Linked DNA regions of Homo sapiens. The protein of the gene in region 4 interacts with the protein of the main gene of each other region in a pairwise test. Each region holds a gene or a part of one and is shown on either strand. Other genes may lie near its edges. The genes, in order: CAMKK1, LCE1D, BOD1, PIAS4, SHOX2, CRLF3 and NMT2.

The links.
Region 1: the proteins of PIAS4 (region 4) and CAMKK1 interact in binary tests that used the Homo sapiens proteins (3 or more experiments, as listed by UniProt).
Region 2: the proteins of PIAS4 (region 4) and LCE1D interact in binary tests that used the Homo sapiens proteins (3 or more experiments, as listed by UniProt).
Region 3: the proteins of PIAS4 (region 4) and BOD1 interact in binary tests that used the Homo sapiens proteins (3 or more experiments, as listed by UniProt).
Region 5: the proteins of PIAS4 (region 4) and SHOX2 interact in binary tests that used the Homo sapiens proteins (3 or more experiments, as listed by UniProt).
Region 6: the proteins of PIAS4 (region 4) and CRLF3 interact in binary tests that used the Homo sapiens proteins (3 or more experiments, as listed by UniProt).
Region 7: the proteins of PIAS4 (region 4) and NMT2 interact in binary tests that used the Homo sapiens proteins (3 or more experiments, as listed by UniProt).

What each region holds. Positions count from the first base shown.
Region 1 is NC_000017.11:3,882,735-3,886,990, forward strand, and holds part of CAMKK1 (calcium/calmodulin-dependent protein kinase kinase 1), read right to left. Parts: intron 2,997-4,256; coding exon of another isoform or gene 2,954-2,996; coding exon 2,594-2,953; intron 1,694-2,593; coding exon 1,646-1,693; intron 1,204-1,645; coding exon 1,150-1,203; intron 747-1,149; coding exon 695-746; intron 442-694; coding exon 308-441; intron 1-307. UniProt on the Homo sapiens protein: Calcium/calmodulin-dependent protein kinase that belongs to a proposed calcium-triggered signaling cascade involved in a number of cellular processes. Phosphorylates CAMK1, CAMK1D, CAMK1G and CAMK4. Involved in regulating cell apoptosis.
Region 2 is NC_000001.11:152,794,668-152,798,864, reverse strand, and holds LCE1D (late cornified envelope protein 1D), read right to left. Parts: upstream 2,145-4,197; 5' UTR 2,094-2,144; intron 1,093-2,093; 5' UTR 1,071-1,092; coding exon 726-1,070; 3' UTR 684-725; downstream 1-683. UniProt on the Homo sapiens protein: Precursors of the cornified envelope of the stratum corneum.
Region 3 is NC_000005.10:173,609,853-173,614,108, reverse strand, and holds part of BOD1 (biorientation of chromosomes in cell division protein 1), read left to right. Parts: intron 1-853; coding exon 854-978; exon of another isoform or gene 979-982; intron 983-4,256. UniProt on the Homo sapiens protein: Required for proper chromosome biorientation through the detection or correction of syntelic attachments in mitotic spindles.
Region 4 is NC_000019.10:4,027,645-4,031,900, forward strand, and holds part of PIAS4 (E3 SUMO-protein ligase PIAS4), read left to right. Parts: intron 1-501; coding exon 502-543; exon of another isoform or gene 544-545; coding exon of another isoform or gene 546-553; intron 554-865; coding exon 866-956; intron 957-1,075; coding exon 1,076-1,204; intron 1,205-1,286; coding exon 1,287-1,392; intron 1,393-4,256.
Region 5 is NC_000003.12:158,103,040-158,108,076, forward strand, and holds the start of SHOX2 (short stature homeobox protein 2), read right to left. Parts: upstream 3,382-5,037; 5' UTR 2,986-3,381; coding exon 2,640-2,985; intron 2,403-2,639; exon of another isoform or gene 2,091-2,402; coding exon of another isoform or gene 2,019-2,090; intron 1,967-2,018; exon of another isoform or gene 189-1,966; coding exon of another isoform or gene 188-188; intron 1-187. UniProt on the Homo sapiens protein: May be a growth regulator and have a role in specifying neural systems involved in processing somatosensory information, as well as in face and body structure formation.
Region 6 is NC_000017.11:30,796,997-30,801,252, forward strand, and holds part of CRLF3 (cytokine receptor-like factor 3), read right to left. Parts: intron 403-4,256; coding exon 315-402; intron 1-314. UniProt on the Homo sapiens protein: May play a role in the negative regulation of cell cycle progression.
Region 7 is NC_000010.11:15,158,525-15,162,780, forward strand, and holds part of NMT2 (glycylpeptide N-tetradecanoyltransferase 2), read right to left. Parts: intron 1,513-4,256; exon of another isoform or gene 1,309-1,512; intron 1-1,308.

The DNA.
Region 1 (4,256 bases), on a different chromosome or scaffold from region 4:
CCGACCCCCAACCTGGCCCGCCACACGACATCCAGCCTTCCTCCCCTCCAGCTGCAATGAGGGGCTCACTTCTTGCCTCTGGGGCAGCCCCTCACCCTCCATGGGAACTTGGGAACATCCCTGACCAGGCTGGGCCCCCAAAGCCTTCCTGCAGCCCCACCCCAAGTCTGGCCCTGTCCTCAGAGGCCTCAGCCACATCTGCCACCTGGGCAAGATCCCTGGGTCTGTGCTAGGGGCTCCCCAGCACCAGAAGCGGCTCCCATGAGACTCAGGTGCTGGTTCCCACCTGCTCACCACCACCCCCTACCTCGATCAGTTTGACCACATTCACGTGGTCCAGCTTCTTCAGGATGGCAATCTCCTGGTACACCCGCTCCAGGGGCAGCAGCTGCTTGGCTGGTCCTCCCTGGGCAGCCTGGGACCCTCTCGGGGGAGGGCGACCTGTGACCAGGAAGAGAACTCAAACACCTGTTCCAGGTGGCTGGGCCTCACCGTGGCCCCCAAACCAGTCTCAAGCAAGAGTCTTGCATGCCCGTGGTCTTGTCCCAACCCACAGGGCACATTCTGTCCCCAGGCCTCTGCTCACGCTGTCTCCCTCTCTACCCCATTCCTAGCCAAAACTAGCTCAGGATCGAGGTCTCCTCCTCTGCCTCCAGGCTAGGAGCTCCCAGGGACAGGATCAGAAGATACATACGTGGAAAGCCATACTGCTTCAGTAACTTCTTTTTGGAAAGGACTTTCATTGCCTAAGGAAGGAGGGACAGAAATGTCACTACTGTGCAGCCACCAGGGGCTAGAACAGGCTGGTACATGTGGACTGAGGTCCGGAGAGGCACACTGGACATCTGCTACTGGCCCTGAGGGTGTGGCCCAGGTAAGTGTTAAGCGGGGTTGGGGGTGGCCATATCTGAGCCTAGCCCTTCCCCTTATTCCCCCAGCAAGCCTTTCTGGAGCTTTCCCCTCAGAGGAATCCAGTCTCTGCTTGCATATCCCCAGGGTTAGGAAGCTCATTCCTTTGCATACCCCTAGGGACAGGGAGCTCACTCTCAGGCAGCCCTGTCCTCTATCTCCTAAGCACAACTCCTGCCCCACCCCTCAGGCTTCCAGGGCCTGGCTTGGGCAACACCTCCCTCGTATCCCCAGACTCACATAGTGTCTGTCTTCACTTTCGTTGTAGGCCAGCCTCACCACACCGTAGGCACCCTGCAGATAGGCATCAGTCAGCCCCACCTGGACAGGGCAACCCCTCCCAGGACCAGCTCAGGAGGTGGGGAGCCGAGCAGCTCTGGTCTCTCCTGCACCCCATCTGCACTACCCACCACCAGCTGGCTCACGGGCAAATATTGTAGCAGATGGGGAGGGGACTCCTGCGCCCTGGTAACTGCCCCTGCTTGGCTCCACATGGCTCCATGCCTCCCTCAGTCCCTCCTTGTCCACTGTCAAGAACTCAGAGAGTCGGGAATCAGGAGCCATCTTCCACCCTCCCCCTGGGTACCTGGGTACTTCCCACAGGGCACGAAACTGTCCTCACCTCCAGGCTAGGACTTGCCTGGCTCTGCCTCCCGTTCCCTCCCACACGAGAGAAGGAGCAGCGCCAAACAGAGAATCCCGAAGCCCCCACTGCTCTCGGCCTGCCCACTCCTACCTTGCCAATCTCACTCTGCAGCTTGTACTGGTTCAGCTGCACGCAGTCCTGTGGGGGAAGAGCGAGCACCAGGTGGAGCTGGGTCCGGAGGCAGCACTGCTCCTACCTCAGAGCCCGTTCAGGGTCCAATTCTGGCCATAAGCTCCTCATTCCCGGACCCCCAGGTCTCACCAAGCTTTTGAGTTTGGATGGGGAAGTTGGTGGTGCCATCGCCCCCGTATGTGACGAGAAGACGTGGCTCATGTTTGAAAACATGGATGGTGACGCCATGGCTGTGCCTTGTTCCCCAGAAGCAGTGGTGAAGGGAAAACGCTAATTCCTGTCTGGATTCTGGAGTCTGGAAGACCCTAATCCATGAGAAACCCATGAGCAACTATTTCCAGAAGCAGCTGAATGAGAAGGTCTAGACTCCAAGGACAAGATGAGGAGCCCTGGGCACAGAGGCTGAGAGCCTGGGTTCAGGCACAGAAAGCTCAGCCCCTGACATCTGTAGACTGCTTGGAACCTGAGTTCACTTTCAGACCTAAATGGCAAGAACTCCAGCAGAAGCCCAGAGGCTGGAGGCAGGCCGGCCGCTTCTGAGTCACAGCAGACTCTAAGAGGCAGAATTAGAGGCGAGGGGTGCAAGCTGGAGAAGAGTTAGGGGGGAAGGGGGACATAGCATCTATCTTCACATCTCTAAGAAGACTACATAGGGGACCAGGGAGAGACCTATTTCCTAGGCCTGGGCTGGGAGTGGGAATAGCAGGACTTAGGGAAGGCAGCCTTTGGCTCAGCTGGAGCTCCCCTGGTTGGGAAGAAGCTATATTGTTAGGTAGTGATCTCCCCAGCTCTGAGGGTATGCAAACCAAAGCTAGATAGCCGTGTGGCACAGACAGGGGCAGGAAAGAGTCTTCATTGCAGACTACTGAGGGGCTCATGAACAACCCCTCGTTCTGCCCCACCAACCTCTGCATCTGAGATGGCCACGTGGTGGGACTCGATGGTGGGCCTCCGCCAGGCCCGGGGGGAGATGTGGCTGGCAGGCCCCGTGGCATAAGGCCCAGCCTGCGCCTCCAGATAGCTTCCTGCTGGCCGCTCCTGTAGGGAAAGCTTCCTGGCTGAGAGGCTAGGCCGGGCTGGGAGCAGTCTTGAAGTACTGCCAGGGATCACAGAGGCAGCTCTGGCCCGTGGTGGGGGGTCCACACCGTTTCTAGTAGGCTCTGGGCCACCATCTGCCTCCTCCAAGTGAGTCACATCGATGGCTGCCACCCGTTCTACCAGCTCTGCCCGAGGATCCTGGCAGCAGACAGCTGGACCCCCCTCCATTGCTTCAGTCAAGGGGGTTCTTCTGCGTAGCCTTGTTGGGAACCTGAGAAAAGAAGGCAGAGAAGGCTTCACTCCTGGGTGTCAGGCTGGCTACCAGGTAAGGTAGCCACAGCGCTGTGGGTCCCACCTCCATGCCTTTGCCCTGGCTGTTCCCTCTACCGGGATTGCCAACACCCAAACTCAAGTCTGTCCCTATGACCTGAATGAATTCACATCGGTTCTGCCGCATGCCAGCCCTCTAGGCCTCAGTATCCCTGCCGGTAACAGAGGCAGTCACTTCTGCCTGCTGGCTTCACAGGGAAGCAGAGAGAATCTGATATTCTGGAATCAGGACAGACAGGGCAGAAGCCTGGAGGCCCAGCAGCACTGGAAGGGGCAGAGCCCAGGGTCAGCTCAGCCCCAGCACAGCATGCAGCCCTGTGAGTCATGAGTCCCAACCCTTGACAGCAGAGCACTCCGACACTGCCTCCTGGAAGCTGAGCTAGACACTAGTAACTCAGAAGCCTTGCTGATGCTTCAGACCCACCCGCCTCCTCCAGGGAGCCCTCCTTGATGTTTCAGCCTCCTACCCCCATCCCTCTCACTGCTTCCAGGAAGACTTCCCTGGGGCTCCCGACTCCAGCCAGCCCTGCCTCATTGACGTCTGTCAAAACAAGGGGATGGGCCCCACATGGTGGCTCACACTTGTAATCCCAGCACTTTGGGAGGCCGAGGCAGGTGGATCACCTGAGGTCAGAAGTTCGAGACTAGCCTGGCTAACATGGCAAAACTCTGTCTCTATTAAAAATACAAAAATTAGCCAGGCATGGTGGCGTGCACCTGAAATCCCATCTACTCGGGAGGCTGAGGCAGGAGAATCGTGTGAACTTGGGAGGTGGAGGTTGCAGTGAGCCAAGATCACGCCACTACACTCCAGCCTGGGTGACGGAGCAAGACTCGGTTTCAAAAAAAAGCAAGGGGATGAGAATGAGGGGAATGAGGGGTGAAACAGGGGCATGACATCCCCTGAGACTCATGTTCTCAAACTCACTGTGTGGCGGCTGAAACATCAGGGAGGTGACCCCCAGCCCTCACCTTCAGCCATGACCCTGGGCTACATCCTGACCCCGGACTGAACCCTGACACTCAGCCTGAGACCCCCATCTCTGTCCCAGGCTTGTAGAGCGCTGGCCATGCCCAACCTGATGCCCTTCCCCCTGCTTGCGCTGGACTCTGCATGTTCTCAGGAGAAGGAAGTGAGTGAACTCCTGACCCTCCATCCTTCCTGTCTGCTGGTAACTTCCTCCGAACCCACACAGCAACT
Region 2 (4,197 bases), on a different chromosome or scaffold from region 4:
ATTTATTCCATATAATGTGAGTATATATAAATATGTGTGTATATATATACATGTACACACACATATATTTATATGTCTACTACGTGTACATACAATCTGAAGGAGGAGTCCGGGGAGATTGTTAGTGGAAGGAGTGGGGAACGAGGAACACAAGAGTGAAGAGGTGACAGTGAGAAGGAGGATGAAGTCGGCCTCCTGGCCATGCCTGAGGGATGCGGTTACATAGGTGAAAGGAACCAGAATTTGAAAGAAAAATATTTCTCAATGCTATTTCAGTCCCTTGGTTTAAAAGGAAAACACAGAAAGAAGAAAAAACACAAAACACACAGAAATGCAAGCTTTTTCCTCCTGACCCCTTCCCCATCCTCTGTCCACCAAGGCCTCAGCAGCCACCAGCAGACACAGGGGAGCAGAACAAGGATGACACAAACAGGAAAATCAAGCAGGCTGGTAGCAAATTGGGGAGCAGATTCTGGATTTTATTTCTTCAGTTCAGGCAGCACAGAATACAGTAGCGTGAGCTGGGGAGGAAGTAGGTGTGTGCTTTGGAGTTCCCAGGGCAGCCATGGATCTGCAGAAGAAAGTCTCTAAATGCCATTAAGGAGAAAGATTTTGGGTTTCCTGACACCAGAGCAGAGGGATTCTCCAGGCAAGACTTCAAGCTTTTGCTGGAACCTCTCAGCTATTCAGGCAGAATCAGAAGGAAGAGGAAGTCAAGGTCCACTTCAGCAGCAGCCTCCAGAGTGCTGGCTGCTGCCCCCACCGCAGCAGCTGGAGCCCCCCGAGGGCTGGCTGCAGCAGTCAGAGCTCTGGGGTCTGCGACGGTGGGACCTGTGGCGCCTGTGGTGGCTCAGGCAGCAGCCACCACCCCCAGAGCTGCAGCAGCCCCCAGAGTTGGAGCCACAGCCGCCCCCAGAGCTGGAGCCACAGCAGCCTCCGGAGCTGACACTGCAGCAGGAAGAGACTGGAGGGCACTTAGGGGGACATTTAGGGGCGGGGCACTTGGGAGTGCACTTGGGAGTGCACTTGGGAGGGGGCTGGCACTGCTGCTGGCTCTGCTGGCAGGACATCTCGGTGGTGGGTGTTCAGGAGCTGAGGGAGAGTCAAATAACAAGTCAGACCCAGGCAGAGGCCACCTCTGCCCCTGTGACACTCTTAGCACCTCTCAAGTTTAAAAGCATCATCTTCAGTAGTTTTATTTCCAATAATTTCCTCAAAATCTCACATCATCTTTTTCAAGATATCTTTGGATGTCAGACAACTGTAAACTAAGACTAAACAATATTGCAAAATGCATCTAAGATTCTGATGTGTTGTCAGTGGAGGAAGAAATTATTACAAATATATCTTAAGACTGAAATTGTCTAATTTATGAGTCATTTAAGAGAAAATTATTTTTAAAGGAGAAGAAGCAGTCATTCTCTCTGGTCATAATTTGCAAGACGATTTTACTTTGGAAGGTCAGCATTGTGCAGGATCTTGGAGACTACTAGGTCAGTAAACTCACTTCAATAGAGACAGATAAACTTAGCAGTTTCTGCAGACTAGTACTTGAACCCTGACCCCCTGATCTCAGGTTGGAGCTCAGACTTCCTCACTCACCACCTGCTCAGGCTGATGGGATGACACGGTGGGTCTCAGGCTTGGTGTGTCCTAACCAAGCTGGGAAGTTTGTGAACAAATCTCAGACCCATGAAAATGTGGGGTTCATAAACCCCAAAGAGTCTTTAGTCCCATGTCCACAGCTCCAGTTCTTCCCTTGCAGGCAGAGACAGGGTTGTATCTTCAGAGGTGGGCTTCCCTCCTGTGGGCTGCCAGAGTGGAGCAGGTCTCTGTGCTTCAAAGTTCCCACTCTGGAACACCCACCTCATCCCAGAGCAGTTTGTTTCCTCTAGAGTTCAAAGGCACATGGCACAGCCCGCCAGCTCTTTTCCTCTTTTCCTTCCTGCTCCCAGTTAGTGCCAGACCCCTTTTGGCCCCCGCCCCTTCAGTCTTTTCTAAACTCTCCACCTCTGACAACATGGCCCTAGCCCCGGAGGCCCTGCCCCTCCTTCCCTCCTGCTCTGTTCTGAGCATCCCTGCTCTGTTCTTACCGGAGTCACAGGCAGCACAGGGTTCTTTAGCACCTCAGGAGGTGAGTGGATGGGGTGGTCTGGCCCTGAGCCCTTTTATCCTGGCCTGGGCTCTGCCCCAGCTGTGAGACAGGGCCTGGGCATGAGAGGACCTTCCTTCTGACACCCACGTGGGTCTTGTGATGGTTGGTGACTGACAGCTCCTCACCTGCCTCTCTCCCCAGGCTCAAGGCAGCCACTCCCAGGTAGGAAAGTGCCTACTTGAAACGGGGTTCCAGGATGACTCCTACCATCACCTACCTCATTCACTTGAAGGCTGCTTGCCCTGAGAGCCTCTCAGTTCTCAGTCTTAGAACTTAGGACCTATCTCATTTCTGTCTCTTCCGAAGTACCTGATGCTCCGTGCAGCCTGGGTTGAAGTTGAAGTACTAATCCCTGAGGTTTCCATGCATGTTTATTTCTGTCCCTGTGCACCACCAAACTGTGTGGCTGTGGGTGCAGTGTAGACATCTACACAAGTAAAACCCTGGAAGTATAACCCGGCCCAGGACCAGGCCCTGCGAGATGGGACTGTTGAAACTATTTAGCCTGTACCATTTTTTAAACCATAAAGCTGGAAGATGAAAAAGAATTAGTTACAGAAGAATTAGTTGGTTGTGAAAGTCAATAAAGTAACACAAAAAAGAGAAAATGTGCCTGACAGAGAGACTGAAACATTGTAGGCTCTGAATAAGTGAAACATTCATAACTTGCTGAATACAGAATGAAGATACTGATCTTTGTTTAACAAACGAAGCACAGCTTTTTTCTAATGAGAGTGAGTCTGGCTGTTTGGTGATCTGTTTGCTTTTAAATAGCCCTTTTCTTCTGGTGGGGTCCTTGATGTGTCAGCACTGAGATGTGAACAAGGAAGCAGCTCATTAGAGAAACAAGAAGCAGCAGCTCTGCTCTTTGTATTGGTGTGAGAATTTGGACTTTTCTGGGTTCACACTGGGAGCACCGGATGATGGTCACAGATGAGAAACAGGAAGAAAAGAGACATGGTTGTGAGACATTATAAGTCTACGCTTCCATGTGGGGTCAAATGGCTGGCAGAACCCCGTCCTGGACCATAAGGGGACGGGTGCCTTTTAAGAACAAGAGTCCTTAATATTTAATGTGAATGTGTTTATGCTGCTACTTTGGAAGCCCCTCTCCTCTCTCTCCACTAGAATCACTAGCTTTCTACATGTCCACAGGATTTATATGAATGGAGTGTTCTGAATTTATACATTTTTAGGATATTAATGAAATGGGCTGCTGTTCATTCTAGGACACACTAGTCACTAAGACAGCCATGACTGCAAGGTTATCCACAAATTAAACTATTTCTTCAGAGGAAGACCAAGAAAAGCCAGATTAAACCATATGAGGGACAAGTCCTCTTCTTCCCAGCCCCTGACAGACTCTGGATATGCCCAGAACTTGGGAATGATATCTAGGTCAAAATGGACATGGTGACCCTAACCAAAACGTGGTGGAGATACATGTATATTTATAAACACATATACAGAGCATACATATTGAGAGAGATGTATATGTGTGTGTACCACCTGTCTCAGAGCATCAATTATTACAGCTGCCCAGACTCCTGTGATAACGTAGTATCTCCAAACACTGTAGTGTGTCTTTGATTCTGTTCTTTTATGACATCCAAGAAAACATCTTCCATCCCTGTACATAATTAACACTAAATCATTAGTAAAGTCTTGTTCATGATTGCACACTGTATAAGGGTAAATGTCCAAATTCCTTCAGTGAAATAAGACTCTGTGTTCTCCCTTTAGTTTAAGCCTTTGTCATCTACTCTCAGAAATGTTCTGAAACTGAACTGGATTATATTCTGTACTTTGATTATGCTTCTCCCTGCAGTGCATGCCGTGGCCTCTACCCTTCCAGGACAGTGTGGCTCAATCCCACTTTTTTATTTATCCTTCATGTGGCATATCACTCTAATGAGATAACAGTAAATGCTTTGATGGCCTGCCTTGGGTGTTTCATACTTCTTACCTCCGTTTTTCAACACAGAGCTATGTGCACAATGGATATTTAATGACTTTTAAATGCTCTCATTGGTATTAGCATT
Region 3 (4,256 bases), on a different chromosome or scaffold from region 4:
TTTCATCTCTGTTGATATCTGTTTTACTGTTGGTTCAGAGTGGAGTCATCCATTTGGTTACTAGTATCTCTTGATTACATTTTACAGCTTCTTCCTCTAGAGAGAGGCTGTCAGCTCCAATCTGGGAAATCCCAGGGAATGTCTGCATTGTCTTAGCGTGGCTCAGGCACCCACTCCTGTGGCACCCTCTGCCCTACCCTTGTGAAGAGAGGAAGACAGTTACTAGAAAGAAGGCGTTACTAGGCAGATAGCACATGGTATCTGTGAATTTTACTCCTCTGCCCCCATTTCCTTGCCTTTCTCTTTTCCAGGTTTAGTGGAGTCTTTGAGTTTGCTCTCTCAACCTTTTGGAAGAGGCCAGTCATGGAATTGAGGCCTGCTGGTTCCTTTGTCAACTTCATTTCCCTGACTGTTAGCAAACTTTGCCGCAGTAATGCTGCATAGCAAACTGAATCTCAGCAGCTTATAACCAGCACTTGTTCACATGTTCATGGGGCGGCAGGTCTACCAAAGTTCAGCTGAGCTAGGAAGGCTTCAGCTGGTGGCTTGGCTGCAGGCTGCCCAGGTGTGGGTCCAGGCTGTGGGTTGATGTCAGGCCTGCTGCATGTAGAGTTACTTAAAAGCAAATGGAATAATATAAGTAAAGCGCCTGGCATTGTGCCCACCCACCATCAGGTGGGCACTTGTGTTAACCATTAATTCCTGACTGCCACATTGCATGGTGATCTTCATGCACAGTGGAAGTGTATTTAGACTTAATAACGTTTCTGTGAAAAGCAGTGTTCTGAGAGACTAAGTTCAAAACTTTGGTGCATATAACTTCTGACCTTGCCTCCTCTTTTTAACATTTTAGCCAGCTTACCAAAACCTGAGGCAGAAAGTGGATAATTTTGTGTCAACACATCTGGACAAGCAGGAATGGAATCCTACGATGAACAAAAACCAGTTGCGAAATGGTCTGAGGCAGAGTGTGGTTCAGTAAGTAAGCAGAATTTAAAGCTTTTGAAAAGGCAGTCATCACAAGTGTGATGCACAAGAAGGTTGAGGTCTCTGTTTAGTCAAGGTTGATGGGACTTTATATCAAGTATCACTTAGGAGTTGCAGCAGTCTGCTCTTTTGTTATAATTAAGGTTAAAGGAAGCAAAGTACTCAGTTGAAATTCCAGTTTCTGCAGCCTGTGAAGGCCTCCTGTGTGCATCTCTACTGGGTGCATCAAAAGGCATTCCAAATCGTGAGACATTTTCCCTGCTCTTTGAAGTTTCAGTGTTGTCCAAACATATATGTGAGTTTTATACCAAGATATCAGGGTTTGGATCTTGGGCAAGAGGAGTTGGATCTTTATTCTCACAGGTGAATGTGAACTAAATAAATTCTTTGAGTCCACCAGGACTGCCACCTCTAAAGTGTAATGGTGACAGCTTTCAGGAAGGCATAGTCTTAATAAAGTATCGTACTTCACAGTAACAAACTGAACCTTAGTTAATAAAGGTGCTATTGATAGCTTATCTGAGTGACGCACAAAAGTGGAGGTGGAGGAGGGTACAGAAATGGGAGAACACATTAGTGATTGCCTGGGGTTACGGATGGGAGGAGGGGGTGAGTGTGACTTGCAAGTGGTAGCACAAGGGGGAGCTTGCAATGGTGCAGTTAAGTGTCACTGAATTGTGCTGTGCTCACGTGCAACAGCTCGTATGGTAAAGTCGCACGGAGCTACACACACAAATAAGTGCAAGTGTAACTGAAGTCTAAATAAGGTCTGGATTGGACCAGTGTCATTTTCCTGGTTTTGATATTGCACTAGTTACGCAAGGTGCTGACATTAGAGCTGGCTGGGTGAAGGGTGCGTGTGGAACTCCCTGGACTCTTCTTCACAACTTCCTGTGAATATGCAGCGATTTTAAGATTTCTAAAGTTTTTAAAAGTGTTTTACTAACAAGCTAGTACTTCCAATATGGCTGAATGCTGGGAAGAAGCCTGATAGCAGAAGATGCCCAGTGCCTTGTCATTCTGGAGTCAGTACCGAGTGCCTTTCCCTTTCTCCAGAGAACAGACTGGTGGCACCGGGCTCTTTCAGAAAGAAGGGGACAGTAGCTGCCCCTTACTGAGCAACTCTTTATTACATGTCTGGCACTGGTCTTTACATATATCACTCATCCTCATGAAAAGCCTGTTTCACAGCTAAAGTCACTTGTGTTTACCCTGTCTTGAGTAAATCAAAACACTGAACATTCTGAAATATTTGGAAAGTTGCCATGATTGTATGAAGGCTGTTAACATTGCTTTGATTTCTGTAATGAGCATGGATGTCATTCTAGAGGTATGCATGTGGCGCTTCCTCTTGCATTTCTTTAGTAGGAATTGTAATACGGAAAAGTGCACAGAAGTTCAGTGAAACAGATAATTAGAACATCCCTTGATCACCCAGATCGAGAAATGGACTCACACCCCCGAAACAGCCTAGCTCCGGATGTACTTTCCTCCTTTCGGAAGTTTTCCATATTCCTGACTTTTATACTAATCATTTCCTCTCTGCATAGTTTTTACCACCTCTGTGAAGTTGTTGTTTTTTTTTTTTTCCCTGCTTTTTGATTTGACTTAGAATGTGTTTAACCTGAAAACATGAACTTGGCTTTAATACTGGGACATTTCTCCACAATTCTTGCTAGCATTTTGAATTTGAGGCAAAATCTACTGGAGTTTCGAAACGCAGACTTTCTGCTTGCCCCCAGGTGCTCTCCCCAGGTGGACACTGCAGGCCTTCAGAGCATTGGCTCACTGGCCTGGCTGTTCTGGCCCAGATGCTGTAACCCAGTGCCACAGCCTAGAGGGTTTAACAGGAAATTAGCCTGTGCTATTGCACTGAATTATGACGAATAACTCTTGTAACTGTACAATATTTGTTTTTTCCATCTTGTACATTGGGCTCCTGACAAGATTTTATGTTTTCCTCAAAAGTTTAAGAATCTCCAGGAAAGTGAGCTGCACTCCCTTGGTAGTTTGTTTCCCCTGATCAGGGGTTTTGGTCAGTTGGGGATGCTTTAACAAGGCGCCGTAGACTAGGTGGCTTGTAAACAATGGAAATTTACTTCTCACCATTCTGGAGGCTAGAAGTCCAAGACCAAGATGCCAGCATGGTCAGGTTCAGGGGAAGGCCTTCTTGCAGGCAGCAGACTGCCAACTGCTTGTTCTTCTCATGTGGTGGAAAGAGAGCTCGCTAACTTCCTGGGGTCCCTTTTGTAAGGGCATAAATTGCATTCGCGGAGGCTCTGCCCCCATGACCCGATCGCCTCCCAAAGGCCCTACCTCCAAAGGCCATCACATTAAGGATTAGATTTCAACATAGGAAGTCTGGGGGACACAGGCATTTAGTTGATAATATCAAGCTTTTACATCTGGTAAAGGACCCTGTGAATCCGACTCAGGAAGTGGTTTGGTAAAGTTGGAAAGGTATTGGCTTGTGACTGAGGAGAGGTGGCTTTCCTTTGTTAGCATCCCATAGCCGGATGCTAACTTTGCTGTATTTAACGATGCTCATCACTAAGGGCCGATACTGTCTAATGCCTGGTCTACCTGAAAATGTGCCCTTCAGTGCTCTAGTGGTGGTGTATTTACATCTAGGCTTCCTGTCGATAAGCTGTTAGTTACCATTGAATCCAGGGAGCACTTTACACACTAATCATCTTTCCCAGTTCACAGCCTGTTTCTTATCTTCTTTGTCATGATGTACATTTACTCATGTCTTTCCTTTGCTGTACCCTGACAGACCATTTGCCCACTTGCTGCCCAGCCTATTTTTACCCGAAGGCTTAAATGGCCTCTGAAGTCTCAAGTCTACGGGAAAATAAGTAAAACCTGCCCACATGCTTGTGATGGTATTGGAATATTTCAGTCCTTTGAGAAGAACACTTCACTTTGAACCTTACGGGCTATTTTCCAGACTGTCCAAATATGATTTGTTTCCTCTCACCATCATTTCCAGTACCCTGTCCCAAGTGTTTGAATATAGACATTGATATGCCCTGATTTTTGCTCTACTTCAGAAAGGATCGGGGATGTAATTTAGCCCTCTAGGAGCTTGGAACTAATTTGTTTGTCTATTTCTTGTTTGCTTCCAAGTTGCTTATTATGTGTTACAGGTAGCAACTACAGCTGAAGGCCATGGTGAATTGCTGGTGATGTAAATACTCCCAGCCCTGACTGATCGGCCTTGTTTAAATTTTAAGGATTAGTAAACAGGTTGCTGCTGGAGCTACTTC
Region 4 (4,256 bases):
TGCCTCCATGGGTTCAGACGATCCCCCTGCCTCAGCCTCCAAGCAGCTGGGACCACAGGTGTGCACCACCACGCCTGGGTAATTTTTTGTGGAGACAGTTTCACCATGTTGCGCAGGCTCGTCTCAAATTCCTGGGCTCAAGAGCTCCGCCAGCCTTGACCTCCCAAACTGGGTGTTTTCTTGCCATTGTGAGCCAGCTGCTAGATTCCCGCATGCACGTTTTAGCTATGTTTCTTCGCAGGGAGAGGCACCTGGCTGCCCTCTCTGGTTCAGGGTTTTGCTGTGGATTCTGTTGCATTTTCCAGGGAGGCCAGCCCCTCTCCTGACCTCACAGCCACTCCTCTCACCCAGCCCGTACAAAAGAGTCCTGGGCCTCAGTTTCCCAGCTCTGGGGGAGGGAGCCTTGTGGTGTGGCGGTCTCCACCTTGTCGGGTGGGCTGGGGTCACGCCCTCCTCACTCAGCTCTCCTTTCCTTTCCTCTGGTTTGCTCCACACCCACAGGGAACTGCAGCCCGGAGTTAAAGCCGTGCAGGTCGTCCTGAGGTATGCCCAGGTGTGCCCGCGACCCCAGGGCTGGACCCCCAGCCACCCGCCCCTCCCCGCCCCCCAGTCCTGGCCCAGGCCCTTCTCAGTCTCCCCTGCTAACAGCAGAGCCCAGCTCTCCTCACCTGCTGTCTATCCCTGTCTGGGGATACATCACCATCCGACCCCCACTCAGGCCACACCCGGGGGCCCTGATACCCCCCGTGTCACATTCTCCGGTGCCCCCATCACTGCCGCCTGGCTACCACTCGTGTACCCCCGCAGCAGCCTAGTCCCTCCTGTGCGCCCCCTCCCCGCCCCATGGTCCCTGTTGTCGTTGCAGAATCTGTTACTCAGACACCAGCTGCCCTCAGGAGGACCAGTACCCGCCCAACATCGCTGTGAAGGTCAACCACAGCTACTGCTCCGTCCCGGTGAGCATGCCCCGCCCCCGCGTCGGCTGCACGGGTTTGGGGGGCGTGGAGGGAGGGTGGGGGCCGTCGGATTTCCCAGCCGCTCTTGGCTCGAGGCTGAGCGGCCCATCTGCTTGCAGGGCTACTACCCCTCCAATAAGCCCGGGGTGGAGCCCAAGAGGCCGTGCCGCCCCATCAACCTCACCCACCTCATGTACCTGTCCTCGGCCACCAACCGCATCACTGTCACCTGGGGGAACTACGGCAAGGTGAGTGCGTGCCCGGGTGCCCACCCTGCCCCCCAACCCCGGCCCCGTCCTGCCAGCCCTGACCCCTTCCTTCTGTCCCCAGAGCTACTCGGTGGCCCTGTACCTGGTGCGGCAGCTGACCTCATCGGAGCTGCTGCAGAGGCTGAAGACCATTGGGGTAAAGCACCCGGAGCTGTGCAAGGCACTGGGTGAGCAGCTCAGGCCACCTCGGCCGAGGGGTGCCAAGTCCACCCTGGAAACCCGCCCTGTGCTGGGTGAAGCGGGGGGCCCTGCACCCGGAGGAGATCGATCAGGGGCCGCCTGTCACTCTGGGGGTCCATGGCCCCCCGGCTGTGGCTGGGGAGGTCTCTGGAGGATACGGATGGCAGAGGGGGCACTTGGCAGTGGGAGCTGCTGTGCGGAGGCCTGTGGGGTCACACCTCGTGTTGCTGGCCCCAGGTGCTCCAGCCCACAGGGGTCTAAGCAGCAGAAGAGCTGGAGCCTCATTCCGGGACAGCACAGAGGCCGGGAGGGGTGAGAGGAGCACAGAGGGAGCTGTGGTCTAAGCAGCCCCTTCTCGTTGCCTCAGCGGGGCCGAGGGTGCTGCGGGACCTGGCGGGTCACGGACGGCCAGGGTCGTGGAGGCAGTTGCTGTGGGAGGAAGACGGGCGGCGGCGGTCTGACCTCACGTTGGTGAGGCCCCGTTTAATCTTTTTTCTTTTTCTTTTTCTTTTTTTTTTAGAGAGTCAGGGTCTCTGGGAGGTAGAGGTTGCAGTGAGCTGAGACTGCATCGCTGCACTCCAGCCTGGGCTGCAGAGCGAGACTCCACCTCAAAAAAAAAAGTGTCTCGGTGTATCGCCCAGGCTACAGTGCAGTGGTGGGATCGTGGCTCACTGTAGCCTCTAACTCGGGCTCAAGCCATCCTCCTGCCTCAGCCTCCTGAGTAGCTTGGGACCACATGTGTTCACCACCACACCCAACTAATTTTTTTTTTTTTTTTTTTTTTTTTTTTTGAGACAGAGTCTCACTCTGTTGCCCAGGCTGGAGTGCAATGGCACGATCTCGGCTCACTGAAACCTCTACCTCCTGGGTTCAAGCGATTCTTCTGCCTCAGCCTCCTGAGTAGCTGGGACTACAGGCATGTGCCACCATGCCCGGCTAATTTTTTGTATTTTCAGTAGAGACGGGGTTTCACCTTGTTAGCCAGGATGGTCTTAAGCTCCTGACCTCGTGATCCGCTTGCCTCGGCCTCCCAAAGTGCTGGGATTACAGGCGTGAGCCACCACGCCCGGCCCCAACTAATTTTTTAATGTTTCGTAGAGATGGAATCTTGCTGTGTTGCCCAGGCTGGTCGTAAACTCCTGAGCTCAAGCAGTGCACCTGCCTCAATCTCCCAAAGTGCTGGGATTACAGTCTTGGCCACTTTCGCACCTGGTCTCTTTTGTCCTTGTAACAATGAAAACAATTTTTTTTAAGTGACACGCAGAGCAATTTTAAAAGAAAGCCTGCCGGCAAGGCGCAGTGGCTCACACCTGTAATCCCAGCACTTTGGGAGGCCGAGGCGGGCAGATCATGGGGTCAGGAGAGCAACACCATCCTGGCTAATATGGTGAAACCCCATCTCTACTAAAAATACAAAAAATTAGCCAGGCGTGGTGGCAGGCACCTGTAGTCCCAGCTACTCGGGAGGCTGAGGCAGGAGAATGGCGTGAACCCAGGAGGCAGAGCTTGCAGTGAGCGGAGATCGTGCCACTGCACTCCAGCCTGGGTGAGAGTGTGAGACTCCATCTCAAAAAAAAAAAAAAGCCTGCCAAGCCTGGTAGGCAAATCAGTCCTCACCCCAAGCAGCCACGCAGCACAAAGCCAGCGTACAGCAGTTAGCCCTGCCTGGCGGCTGTGTGGCCTCAGAAAGTCGCTGGCCTTCTCTGGTGGCCACTGTCTTCAGGAGAATAGATCTGAGCCATCTTGAGGGCACCTGGACATCTCTCTGGACCCCACATGCTTGGGGCCCAGGCCTCAGTGGGCTCTGCAGGCCTGTCTTATGGAGAGGCTAGGCCTAACCTGGAGTCATTTGGAGCTGGGAGTGGGAGTCAGGCAGGTGGGTGAGGACTGGGACCACCTGCCAGGCTGACGAGAGGGCGGTTCTGGGCCAGCCGGGTTTGCTCGCACCCCCTTCCCGAATGGTGGCTGTTTTCAGGTGGAATCTGGGCACCACCCCAGCCCCTTGGCAGAATGTGGGCCAGAGGGTCTTCCAGCTGCCCCTCCTAGCTGCCCAGGCCCCTGTGCCCAGGCCAGAGAGTTCCCCATGAGCACTGCCCTCCTGGCACAGCCAGGCCCAGGCCTCTGGTCCCTGTTCCTGACCACCAAAGGGCACCTCCTTGCCTGGGTGTCCAGAAGCCTGGAGCAGTGCTGGCACTGCCAGGGGCCTGCGAGCCCCATCGTGTTGAAGCCTCCTGTGCACTCCAGCCCCCCAAGTCAGGAAAGATAGCCGGCAGCACCCCCTCTGCAGAGCAGGACGTGGAGGGTGAGGGGTCCCTCCACGGAGTCCGGCATCCTTGGCCAGCCTCCTCCAGGCTCGGGGATGGAGGGCCTGGCTATGTACCCGTGTGACCAGTGGGGACACTGAGGCACAGAGTGGCAAAGTTAGGGTTCTGTGTCCTGGGTTACCCCGCCCCACCTCCCTCTTCCCTCAAAGGGCCCTTTTTTCAACCGCCCCCGACCTTCCCTGCCTGTGGGGACATGGCCAACTTGAGGGAGGAGGCTGGGGCCGGGCAGGCCTCTTCTAGGCCCACGGGGTGGGGGCCGGGCTTAACTCCTCAGTGACCAGAGCCCGCAGTGCTGGGGGCTGTGGGGTCAGGCTTCCTCTCCGAAGGGGTCTCCTGCTGCTTCCCACAGCCGGCCCCAGGCTCAGCCTCTCTGTCACTGGATTTCTTTCTTGCTGCACCTAGGAAGTCCTCACCTTTGCCTCACTTGAACCCTTCCTGCTGCGCACGTCTCTCCATACACAAAGGAGGGAGAGTTTGCTTTAAAATCAGATGGGCACCTGCATCCCCTCCTAGCTGCCCCTTTGCCA
Region 5 (5,037 bases), on a different chromosome or scaffold from region 4:
CGGCTTCTCAACCCACCCGGAGGAAGAATATCCCGGAGAAGCGCAAAGGTCAAGTCTGAGCGGCCGCCTGGGGCAAGGTGGGCAGTCATCCACCACCTCCTTCACAAACGTACCTCGACTCACCGCCTCACTATTCACCCCCCAGTCACCGGCCTTCCCCAGCAAACACCAAATGGTTTCCACTCACTTTCGCACTCACTTGCTCCGCAGCACTCACAGAAATCAAAGGCGCAGCGCCAGGCCTCTCACAGAGCAAAGTCTGGACATAAGGGCGCGGCAAGGCCACCCACTGGCCTCTCACACCGGCCATTCCCAGAAGGCTGGCTCGTTCTCAGGCCAGCTCTCACCACCGCTGGCTCTCTGCCTACCGCAAACTTGCTGGTCTAATTTAGGAACAATTGGGCCGAAAGGTATCAGCGAGAGCAACAGACCCCGGTGTTGTGCCGCACAGGGAGCCGCATCCGCAGACGCCCCTCGCTGCCCCTGGGCTCGGGCCAAACCCTGCATAAGGTCCCCTGGACAGCCAGGTAATCTCCGTCCCGCCTGCCCGACCGGGGTCGCACGAGCACAGGCGCCCACGCCATGTTGGCTGCCCAAAGGGCTCGCCGCCCAAGCCGGGCCAGAAGGCAGGAGGCGGAAAACCAGCCTCCGGTGGCGGGCGAAAGCAACCGCTCTTTCTGTTCTCTCTTCGCCCTCCCTCGTGGAAACGCAGACTCGACCCTAAACGCTTAACCCACAGAGATCAACAGGTTCAAGCGGAATATTCGCGATCCTCGGTTTCTATTGGTTGCTCAAAGCCTTTTCATGCAACCAGCAGCTCGGATGTTTAATAAAATATGAATTTTTCTGCTCTGGGTTTGCACACATCCGTTGCCACTTTCCTGTCCTTCTCCTCCCTTTAAAAACAGGAGCTCTTCTAGTGTGAGCATATACAGCCACCATATATATATCCCCCTGGAACCTTTATCCTCTGCGCCCGAATCAGAGACTCCGGGTTTTAAGAAGTCAAAGCTGAGTTTAGATAGTCGAGGCTGTTTGCAGTTCTTCCCAGCGCAGGATCCAGGCCAGCATGGGTGTTAAAAATCATTTCCGGAAGAGCCGGTCTGCAGAGAAATTAATACTTGCCCTGAGCTTGGAAATCAACAATCCCAGGAACTGCGCCCGCCGGGGGTTCAGACCTGAACCTCGCCGTCAGGCGCGCTGGCGAACCTGTAGTTCGGGCCTGTAGTTGTGGACTCATGGCCGGGAGGCTGCACTGGGCACCTTGACGGTAACTCCACCACTTTACAAATTTAGGAAGACCTGGTGCTGGTTTGGAGGAAGAAGAGTCGCTAGATCTCGGCCCTGCCGGGCATTCTAGCTACGGTGATCTTAAATATTGCCGTATTTTCTAGTTCTCAGAGTTAGTTTTGTGGACATTTGTCCTTTCTTTAGGAAGGAACATTATAGTAAACATTATGGGCCAATTTAATAGCAAAGTATTTTTACTGATATTGTATTGAAATTTAAATATGAAAACACACCCTTCAAATTCTGCCAATGAGGTGGGAAGGCTTTGTCTATTACATGTCATCTACACAGTGGATGCCACTCAAAGTTTTGGGGCTTCGAGGAGATGTCCAAATTTCAAGTTGATCCATAGACTTAATAAAATCTCTATTTTTGTCCCCAAATTTCCAATTACTGATCTAAACAGGAACAGACCGTGTCATAAACAACTTAATTGCTTGCTTAAATATGTGATTCCACGCATGCCACATATTTTCTTAATTGGAAAAATATGGCAGTACACCAGTTACTGCAGGCACCAAGTGCCAAATCAATTTTATTGTTGAACTCCTTTGAATTGGTATAGAACGCTCTGCCATTGAGATAAAGACGTTTCCTAACACTGAGCTAGCACCAAAGGATTTTTGCTCTAAGAGAACCGAGTACTGGGTGATTGAAAACACTAAAGGAATTGTGTAAATATAGATCCCCACCTCCCCCGCCGCCCCCCCCCCCCGCCCCCAACACACCAAGAAACCGAAACGCCTCGCCCGGGAGAAGCAGCGTAGCCTGGACCTCAGCTTTCGTTGGCTTCCTTCTACCTTGAAAGAGAATGGGAAGTTTTGGCCCCTAAGATCCAAAGATTCAGGGGCTCTGCGGAGTTCGAGGGGTCTTGGCGGCCCCAAACACCTAGGCGACCGGAGGGTTAAGCTTTCCACCTCTGCCCCTTCTCCCTCCCGGCAAACTCTGCGCTAGAGGCTAGCTTTAGTCCCGCCGTCTGGTTCAGCACCCCCTCCTGCAGCCCGGCCCCGCGAACTTCCACGTCCGCCTGCGGGCCATCCGGGCTGCGGGCCCATCCTCCCGCTGGTGAAAAATGCATTTCGGTGGAATGGGAACATCTGGGAAGGGCGCGCACAAACCCCACACGCTTCCCCCCACGCCACCCCCACAACACACTAGGACCCCACCCATGACCGAGCATACCACCGGACCCCCACCCTTCCACTATCACTCTAGCTGACAAAGCTGGGGTCCAGGGCCCTCTCCGTGTCCCTCTCCCCTCCCCGCTGGGCCTCGGAGTCCTCTCCCGCCCGAGAGGAGTCCGGAAGGCGGGAAGGGGAACCGCTGCCGGGGGTCAGTCAGGTCGTTACCCTCCGTCAGTCGCGGGCTGCCCGGCTCCCTGCTTCTCTCGGCGGCGCCCATGTCCAGCTCCCGGACGGGAGAGCGCCCTCCTCCAGCTCCTCCGCCTGCTCCTCCTCCTCCTACACCTCCTCCGCCTCCTCCGCCGCCGCCTCCGCCTCCTCCGCCGCCGCCTCCGCCGGCCGCCCGGACTGCCGGGCTGCTGCGGTCGTCGCGGCCCGCCTCGGTGCAGCCGGTCGGCTCCTTGGCCCCGCGCAGCGGCCCGCTCTCCAGCACCTCCCGGTACGTGATCGCCTCCTTCTTCTCCTTCACTTTCTGGTCAAAAGACTTGGAGACGAACGCCGTAAGTTCTTCCATCGCCGCCGCACGTCAGCCCGGCGCTCAACCTCTGCCAGCAGAGCCCCGCTCTTTTTTTCCTTCTTCTTTTTTTACTGCTCCAGCCCCCCCAATAATAACACATCAATGGGACAGGAGGTGGGGGAGGAGAGGGAGGAGGAGAAAGAAGAAGAAAAAGAGGAGAAGAAAGAAGAAAGAGGAGGAGAAGTAGAAGGAGAAAAAGAAGTAAGAAGAGGAGGAGGAGGAAGAAGAGGAAGAGGGGGAGAAGGGTGAAGAGGAGAGGGAGGAGGAGGAGGAGAAGAGAAGGGGCGGGGGCTGCCGGAGGGAAATGGGAACTGATGCTTCCCTGCCGGAGCGCGCTTGTTCAATGTTAAGATCTTTGACAATTCTTCCTGCGGAGAGTTCAGATCTGATAGCGACGCTGCGCTTGAAGTCCCACTATTTATACTTCCTAACGGCGGCCTCTTGTTTTGAGTAAATTACCTCCCCTCGCAACTCGGAGTGAGCCCCCTTCCCGGGTAGCAGTCGCGCCTCTACCGGGGGTTGGGGAGGGGAAAAGGAGAGAAACAGAGAGAGAGAGAGAGAGAGAGAGAGAGAGAGAGAGAGAGAGAGAGAGAAGAGGAGAGAGAGAGATTGGAGTTCGGGCGGGCTGGGGCTGGAGTGGTAGGGCAGCACAGGGGGACCGGAGGGGGCGGGGAGAGAAGGCCGGTCCCCGGCCGCTCAGGTTTTCAGATAGCCCCTGCCGCCTGTGCTCTTGGCCATTAATCCAGGATTGACAAGAATCCCTAATTAATTTAATTAGGCGTGGATTTTGCGTTGGTGTCACGACTTAGTTAAACACTGGGGAGCTGGATAGACCCCGCGGGGTGGGGCCAAGAGGAAACTGACAAGTGCGCAGCTCTTAGAGTCAGTCAGGTATCCCGACACTGCATCCTTCCCTACAGCCTTGCTTCGAGTCAGGGTGCCTCGCAATGCTCAGCTTCGCATTGCTTTTCCTCGTCCCTGCCCTGCATCAACCGCCCAGCAGTTTACAGGCCCCGCATCCCATTCCCGCATCCTGACCCCGCATCCCAATTCTGCATCCCCGCCTCTCCCTCACAATCCCACCCCTGCCGGCCGTAGCTCCACCGCCCAGCATCATCCTGCCCAGAGACAGGGTTGCCTGCACCTTCTCCGACCCGCGCAGCTTCTCTTAGGAGCTTCCCGGCTCGCAGGCAGGCTGAGTCCGGGTCTTCTCCAAGCTCCTCGCCCCTCGGTCCGTGTTATTCGCTCTATTATTCGTGTCCTGGAGCCCAGCTGACTCCTCTATGGACAGACCCCGCTAAAAGGGACCAGTCGATTTAACAAGTTTCCCCAGCAGCTGTTAGCTGACAGATCTCATTTTAAAGTGTTTCCTTAGCGCCCGGTCAAGGACAGCTCGACTTCGTTCGTTTCCTCTCTGAGGTCTCAGAACTCCCACCCTTCTCCCTTACTCTCTGCACTCGGACCCCTCTATGGTGAATTACAGGACTTCTTCTTTAGCATCTTGGGAAACATCCGAGTTTATTTACTAATTTGAAAAACAAGAGATTATCCCTCTTCGAGTCTGAAAAAAAAATCGACGTTAAGTTTGTACCCCCTCTAATTTCATTTATTACGGAGAGCTAAAAAAGAGACGCTCGCCAGGAGTAAAGGTCTCTCTGCCTACCCCCCCCACCACCCCGCTTACGATTTAAAATTCTATTTCTGGGCTATTTTCATCGGAACGGTTTGTTACGTTAGAGGAACATCTATATTCCTGAGTCATTTGTCTGTATTGTGCCGGACAGGGCTTGCTGTGAGAAGTGTGGCTATGCAAATACATACTCACAAAAGAATATTTACATATGATGTTATATTTAAGTGTGTAAACAAATATACCTCTAAGTGTGGCTTAGGGGACATTTTCAAGTACTCTGAATATTAATGCAGACTTTCTGGAAGTTAAAGGTAACTTGATCATTATTTTGGATCTAATACTCTTAGTAAAAATAAGAGGAATTACAGAACATTAATATGTATATCTTCCGTATATTGGTTAAGGCATCAAAACAA
Region 6 (4,256 bases), on a different chromosome or scaffold from region 4:
CAAGCAATTCTCCTGTCTCAGCCTCCCCAAGTAGCTGGATTACAGGTCCATGCCCGTCTAATTTTTATATTTTTAGTAGAGACAGGGTTTCAACATGTTGGCCAGGCTGGTCTCAAACTCCTGGCCTCAAGCAATCCACCCGCCTTGGCCTCCCAACGTGCTGGGATTACAGGTGTAAACCACCACGCATGGTCTGAAAACCTTGAAATATATATTCTCTATCTCCCTTAATGAGAATCTTGAACAGAGGGAGGAAAAAAGCAGACATAGTTTAAATGCTTAAAAGTAAGTCAAAAAGGCACAAACTCTTTTACCTGTCCAACTGAATGTGCGAGGCCTTTTTGGTAAAGCTCCACAGTTTCTCATTCTCTTCTCCCACACCACCAAGCATGGCGATTTCACCTACAATCAAGAATAAGAGAACTAGAACAATGAAAATGGTCACATATAAAGTAATCAACACAACTCATGTCTGGGTGGGTCTCTAGCGTTCTTGCAAATAAGTTCTTAAGTGATGCCACAGTCAAATTCCCAAAAAGTTAAAGTAGAAACTATTTTAGACGTGACTCTAAGATCAAATCCAAGAGGAAAAGGGATATACAGTGGCAACATTTTGCCAGAGATGAAAAATCTATCTACTCTATACAAGGAAATCAACCAATTTTAGGCAAAGCAGAAAGCCCAGGGACTTCTTTCCATCTCTCCTACAGAATCATTATGAACTTCAATAGGAGCCAGTACAAAATATTGCCCTGAGAGGTGCAACAGGGGATAGGGTGTTTTTTTTTTTTTTTTTGAGACTGGGTCTTGTTCTGTCACTCATGCTGGAGCACAGTGGTAGGATCATAACTCACTGCAGCCTTGAACTTCCAGGTTCAAGCAATCCTCCCATCTCAGCCTCCCAAGTAGCTGTGACCACACGTGCACGCCACCATGCCCAGCTATTTTTTTTTTTTTTTTTTTGGTAGAGATGAGGTCTCACTATGTTGCCCAGGCTGGGCATAAGGCTTGAAAAGCCAAATGATGCATCTATGTTTTCCTAAAAGAGTATCATATATCAGATTACAAATTATTCAACAGAACAATAAAAAGAAAATGTCAGGCTGGGTGCGGTAGCTCACGCCTGTAATCCCAGCACTTTGGGAGGCGGAGGCAGGTGGATCACGAGGTCAGGAGATCAAGACCATCCTGGCCAACATGGTGAAACCCTGTCTCTACTAAAAATACAAAAATTAGTTGGGTGTGGTGGCAGGTGCCTGTATTCCCAGCTACTAGGGAGGCTGAGGCAGGAGAATCACTTGAATCCGGGACATGGAGGTTGCAGTGAGCCGAGATCACGCCACTGCACTCCAGCCTGGGCAAAAGAGCGAGACTCCGTCCCCCCCGCCAAAAAAAAAAGTTACATAGAGGCATATGATATGAAAATGACCAACTTCTATGTCCTTCCACAGCCCTGAAGAACACTGCCAGAACTCTTTTCCATCTAAATGTGCCCTGTAGTTACTCAAGTTTTTTGAGACCATATGACCTTCTCCTTCACCAAAAGAAAAACAGAGACATGGCCGGGTACTGTGGCTCATGCCTATAATCTCAGCACTTTGGCAGGCTGAGGCTGGTGGGTCACCTGGGGTTGGGAGTTCAAGACTAGCTTGGCCAACATGATGAAACCCCGTCTCTACTAAAAATACAAAAAGTAGCTGGGCATAGTGGCACGCTCCTGTAGTTCTAGCTACTAGGGAGGCTGAGGCACTAGAATCGCTTGAACCCGAGAGGTGGAGGTTGCAGTGAGCCAAGATCGTGCCACTGCACTCCAGCCTGGGCAACAGTGTGAGACTCTGTCTCAAAAATAAGTAAATAAATAAATAAAATCCTCAAAATTCCATAAGTAAGTTTCTATCCCTCAGGAGAATAGGAAAGAGTTTGACATTAAAAATATTCCTAAAGTTTCCTTCTGCTGCTGAGATGTATAATAATTTTTTTTAATTAAAAAACATAGGCCAGGCACAGTGGCTCACGCCTGTAATCCCAGCACTTTGGGAGGCCGAGGTGGGCAAATCACGAGGTCAGGAGTGCTAGACCAGCCTGGCCAACATGGTGAAACTCTGTCTCTATTAAAAATACAAAAAATTTGCTGGGCGTGGTGGCGGGCGCCTATAATCCCAGCTACTCGGGAGGCTGAGGCAGGAAAATCGCTTGAACCTGCGAGGCGTAGGCTGCAGCAAGCTGAGATCGTGCCACTGCACTCCAGCCCAGGCAACAGTGCAACACGCCATCTCAAAAATAAATAAGTTAATTAATTAAATTAAATTTTGGACATACAAAAATATTCAAGTATCAAATGCTGTAACACTCACACTGCCTCAAAGGGATTTTTTCTTTTTGAGACAGAGTCTCACTCTGTCACCCAGGCTGGAGTGTGATGTATAATCACAGCTCACTGCAACCTCAAACTCTGGGGCTCAGGGGATCCTCCCGCCTCAGCCTCCCAAGTAGCTAGGACTACAGGAATGTGCCACTATGCCCAGCCAGGATTTATCTTTTTTTTTTTTTGAGATGGAGTCTTGCTCTTGTCGCCCAGACTGGAGTGCAATGGTGCAATCTCAGCTCACTGCAACCTCTTGCCTCAGCCTCCCGAGTAGCTAGGATTACAGGTGCCCACCACCATGCCCAGCTAATTTTTGTATTTTTAGTAGAGACGGGGTTTCACCATGTTGGCCAGGCTGGTCTTGAACTCCTGACCTCAGATGATCCGCCCCCCTCGGCCTCCCAAAGTGTTGTGATTACAGGCACGAGCCACCGCGCCCGGCCAGGATTTATCTTCTAAAATAAAAACAAATGATCAGTCCTCAGGGTGATGAGTGTACACTCCTGGCCCGTGGTGCACTGCTTCTGGGTTTGTTTCCAAATGCAAAGCCACCAAGGAAAGACATTTCATGGTACTGCTAGAATTTTCTCAAAAGTACTGTTATGGTCAGTGGCAAATAAACACTTCTCATTGAAGACAAGACAAAAATGTAACCAGCAATGTCAAGATAACACCCATACTATATTCTAAGTGGGACCAAAAGAAGATTAACTTCCAGGTGGAGTGACAGCCATGTGAATCATCCACGCCTTTTTCCCACACCACTCCCAGCACTCATTCTGCAGAAGAGATGGAATTCAGTCTCCTTCCCTAGCTCCTTTTTCCTCAAATGACTTTTAAATGTTGGTGACCCTTAGCGTTCTAATCTCTTTCATCTGCTCTTCTCACATTACACGGTGTCCCTTGATGATTGTACTTATTCCAATAGATTCAGATTTGATATATATGCCATTAACTGCCATACTGACATCTCCTGGTATGATCTCTCTCCTAAGAATCATACCCGTATTTCCATCTTAAGCACCTCAAACTCACCATGCCCAAGCCAAATGCCTAACTACGTACTAAGCACCCGCCTTCTCCTTCAATTCCTTTGTCAAAAACAGCACCACTATTTATTCAGAATCCAAAAGTAGGCTGATTTTTGTTATCACAAATCCTTTCCTTTCCCCTCCATCACATATGTAGGTAATCATCTACAGATAACAGTCACTGCTCAGTAAAATCATCAATAATTCTACTTCTTAAAAAAAAAAAAAACTCTGTCTTGTTTTTTTGTTTTTATTTTTAAGAGACAGGGTCTTGCTCTGTTGCCCAGGCTGGAGTGCAGTGCTGCAATCATAGCTCAAGCTCTCCCACCTCAGCCTCCTGAGTAGTTGGGACAACTTGTGTGTGCCACCATGCCTGGCTAATTTTTTTTTTTTTTTTTTTGAGACGGAGTCTCGCTCTGTCGCCCAGGCTGGAGTGCCATAGCACGATCTAGGCTCACTGCAAGCTCCGCCTCCTGGGTTCACGCCATTATCGTGCCTCAGCCTCCCGAGTAGCTGGGACTACAGGCGCCTGCCACCATGCCTGGCTAACTTTTTGTATTTTAAGTAGAGATGGGGTTTCACTGTGTTAGCCAGGATGGTCTTGATCTCTTGACCTTGTGATATGCCTGCCTCGGCCTCCCAAAGTGCTGGGATTACAGGTGTGAGCCACTGTGCTCAGCACGCCTAGCTATTTTTTTTTAAAAAAATTAGAGACAATCTCACTACATTGCCCAGACTGGTCTCGAACTCCTTACCTCAAATGATCCTCCTCTCCTGTCTAGGCTCCCAAAGTGCTGGGATTACAGGTGTGAGCCATTGTGCCTGGCTCAAAATCTCTTAAAATCAGCCCTGCCTCATCT
Region 7 (4,256 bases), on a different chromosome or scaffold from region 4:
TAAGAGCTATTGGAATCCATTCTGCAAATCTTTAGTAAGTTACAAACACATGCAAGGTACCAGGTATTGCAAGGATTGGAGACTGAAAGTGCTGTCTCCATGCACACAATCTACCTGTGAGTAGACAGGCAGACACGCTGTGTTCTGCAAACATGTTTTGAGGTGTGTCTTAGTTCAGCCTGCTATTACAGAATACGATAGACTGATTACTTAAAGAAAAGACATTTATTTCTTACAGTTCTGGAGGCTGGAAGTCCACCAAGATCAGGGTGCCAGCAGGGTCAGGTTTTTGGTGAGGGCCTTATTCTTGGCAGAGCAACAAAGCACTGGACTCTATCTCTTTATAAGCATACACTGATCCGATTCATGGGGACTCCACCCTTGTAAGCTATTTACCCCCCAAAGGTGCCACCTCCAGACACCATCACGTTGGGGATTTAGGCTTCAACATATGAATTGGCAGGGAGATACAATTCAGTCCCAGCAAGGTGCCAGCATTGTTCACTATGTCCTTCCCTGAAAACTCCCTTTGCCCACAGGTCTCACCAAAGGTGTGGCCCTCAGTGGCCATGTTGTACCACACAATTCTCTTCTACCCCTCCCTTTCCCTTCTCCATCACAGTGGACTGGATCATGCCTGGATAATCCCTTTCTTGGCCAGAAACCAGTGAGATCCTTTCTGGAGAATCTGAACTAAGGAACAGATGCTTGGGGCAGTCTAGTTGACAGAGACTGAGACAGAAAGGGAGAGAGGTTAGAAAGACAGATGGACCTTGGGTACTTGACTTTCTATAATGTTTAATTCTAATAAAGTCCAGCCATACTTTATTTTCAGATAACCTATTGTATATTTAAATAAAACCTCCTTAAAATATTTATTTATTTATTTATTTATTTATTTATTGAGACAGAGTCTCACTGTCGCCCAGGCTCACTGGAGTACAGTGGCACAATCTCGGCTCACTGCAGTATGTGCTTATAAAGTGATCTCCATCTCTCGGGTTCAAGCAATTCTGCCTCAGCCTCCCGATTAGCTGGGATTACAGGTGCCCGCCATCGTGCCAGACTGATTTTTGTATTTTCAGTAGAGATGGGGTTTCACCATGTAGCCCAGGCTGCTCTCGAACTACTGACCTCAGGTGATCCACCCGCCTCGGCCTCCCAAAGTGCTGGGATTACAGGCGTGAGCCACTGCGCCCAGCAAAATAAAACCTTTTACTCTAGCTGGTTGGTAGATGCTACACACACATTAAGCAACAGACGCAAAGACCCACATCTCCCATTTGTGATTGTGGACAAGGAACTCACCTCTAGGAGCCACAGCTTGGGGCAGGAGAATGAGGGTCTTCCCGAGCAGAGGGCTGGGGAGATGAGGTGAGAGCAACTGGGAAAGATGTCACGGGAAAGATACACTCACTAAGAGCTACAGGGCTTCCGGCAGGGGTCAGCGCCTTTGGTCATAGTGGCTGCGGAAGGCTTCATGAAAGAAAGGACATTTGGGCTGACCTTGAACTTAGAGAAGAGGAGAAGAAAGATCAGGAGACACTCTCAGAAGCAGAGGAAGCCATGACCCACAGAAAGGCGTGAGCAGTAACAAATTCCTCTTGGTGAACAATGATGTCTGACACTGAATTCAAAGTTGTTTTCTGCGCTACTCTGTAATCAGACCTCCCTCCCTCCCCATTAGCCACAAACGCTTCAGCAAATGCTGTGCACAATAGCTGGATTTTAGTGATTCCTGGGAGGAGGGTGGTGAGAGACACAGAACTGAAGATAACCGTGTTCCACCCAAGGTCAAATGTTGAAGAAAAAGAGCACCCTAAGGACACACAGGCACAAGGAGCCCGGTGATGGGGCAAGTTGGCTGCAGTGTGGGTGTGCCTGAGGACCATGAAAACTTAAGACCCCAAGAAACCCCCATGAACATGTATCAGCTCAGGCCATTTTGTTTAGATAGTAAAGGAAAGGTGCCAGGTGCAGTGGCTCACACCTGTAATCCCAGCACTTTGGGAGGCTGAGGTGGGGAGATTCCTTGAGGTCAGGAGTTCGAGACCAGCCGGCCAACGTGGTGAAACCCCGTCTCTACTAAAAATACAAAAATTAGCTAGGCATGGTAGTGTGCGTCTATAATCCTGCCTACTTGGGAGGCTGAGGCAGGAGAATCGCTTGAACCTGGGAGGTGGACGTTGCAGTGAGCAAAGATGACGACACTGCACTCCAGCCTGGGCAACAGAGTAAGACTCCATTGCAAAAAATAAAAAATAAAGGACAGGCGATCCCAGCATGTGAAAGGACATGGAAACCCTTTGGTAATAGAACAACAGGGAAAAAATGCCAGAAGCTTCTAGACTGAAAACAAGTTAAAACAGACAAAAAGAATAAGATTACCTATAAAAGACAGAGAAGCAGAGAAAACAGCATCTGGCCAGGCACAGTGGCTCACACCTGTAGTCCCAGCACTTTGGGGAACCGAGTCAGGTGGATCACCTGAGGTCAAGGTCAGGAGTTCGAGACCAGCCTGGCCTGGGTGACAGAGCGAGACTCTGCCTCAAAAATCAAAAAAAAAAAAAAAAAAAAAAAAAAAAACACAAAGAAAACAACATCTGTACCAGTAAATACTGGAAGATATTAAAACGTTTATGGAGTTTCAAGGAAAACGATTGTTATCATAGAGTCACATGCACACCCAGGCTATGTATTATGTGGGAGGGGAAAAGAATGGCATTTTCAGACATGCAAGAACTCAAAATACATCATCCACGCACTCTAAGAAAAAAAATCATGTGAGAATGCTGTTAAAGAAGAAAAAGACAGGATGTGTTTTATTTTTTACTTTTATTTTTTTGAGACAGAGTCTTGCTCTGTCGCCCAGGCTGGAGTGCAATGGTGCAATCTCGACTCACTGCAACCTCCACCTCCTGGGTTCAAGTGATTCTCCTGCCTGCCTCAGCCTCCCGAGTAGCTGAGATTACATACGCCCGCCACCACACCTGGCTAATGTTTTTTTGTATTTTTAGTAGAGATGGGGTTTCACCATGTTGTCCAGGCTGGTCTCGAACTCCTGACCTCAGGTGATCCGCCCACCCCGGCCTCCCAAAGTGCTGGGATTACAGGTGCGAGCCACCACGCCTGGCCGGGAGGATGTGTTTTATAAAGAACGATGGAAACCCATAAAAACAATAAAGCTGTCAGGAAAGTCTAAAATGTTTTTGTTAACAGGAATGTGAAACATGTAATAGTTAAGAAAAAAGTCTCTAGTGACACAAGGGCAAAAATAAAAGAATTACAATTCCAGGTTATTTCAATTAAACCTAGGAAATGAAAAGAAGTCAAAATATCCTACATGATTTTTCTTGTGAGATGGTAGAATATTTTAAATAGTGGTTAATTTTTTGATATGGATAAAGAAATATAGATGAAAACATACTTGTTCAAAATGTACAGATCGCCGGGCACGGTGGCTCACGCCTGTAGTCCCAACACTTTGGGAGACGGAGGTGGGTGAACTGCTTGAGTTCAGGAGTTCGAGACCAGCCTAGACAACATAGTGAGACCCTGTCTCTACAAAAATACAAAAATTAGCCAGGTGTGGTGGCATGTGCCTGTAGTCCTAGCTACTTGAGAGGCTGAGGTGGGAGGATCACTTGAGTCCAGGAGGTCAAGGCTGTAGTGAGCTGAGATTGTGCCACTGCACTCCAGCCCAGATGACAGAGTGAGACCTTGTCTCAAAAAAAAAAAAAAAAAAAAAGTGTACAGATAATCCACAGAAGAAAAAAAGAATGAAAACTAGACATATTCTACCAAAGACAGGAAATAAAATACAGAAATTTTTGAGTACCAAGAAAGCTTATAAACAAAATTCAAAGACTGAATATGATCTGAGCTGTCCAGTATGATAGCCACTAGTCACATGGAGCTATTTAAATTTAAATTAATTCAAATAAAATAAAAACATTCAGCTCAGTCACACTTGTCACATGCAAGTGCTCCATGTGTTGATGACTGCCCAACTGGATTACTATCACCCCAGAAAGTTCCAGCACACAACAATAAGAGTCAGCGAAACATACATGGTAACAAATGCACCCAGGTACAGTAAGATCCCAGCGATGTTAAACACACACACATATTAAAAAGTGAGTTCATTAAACTATCAGTGGTGACAGCTCTGGGAAATAAGGTGACCAGGGGCTTTCACTCTACCTTATATACCTTATTGTTTGATATATATATATATTTTATTTATATATATATTT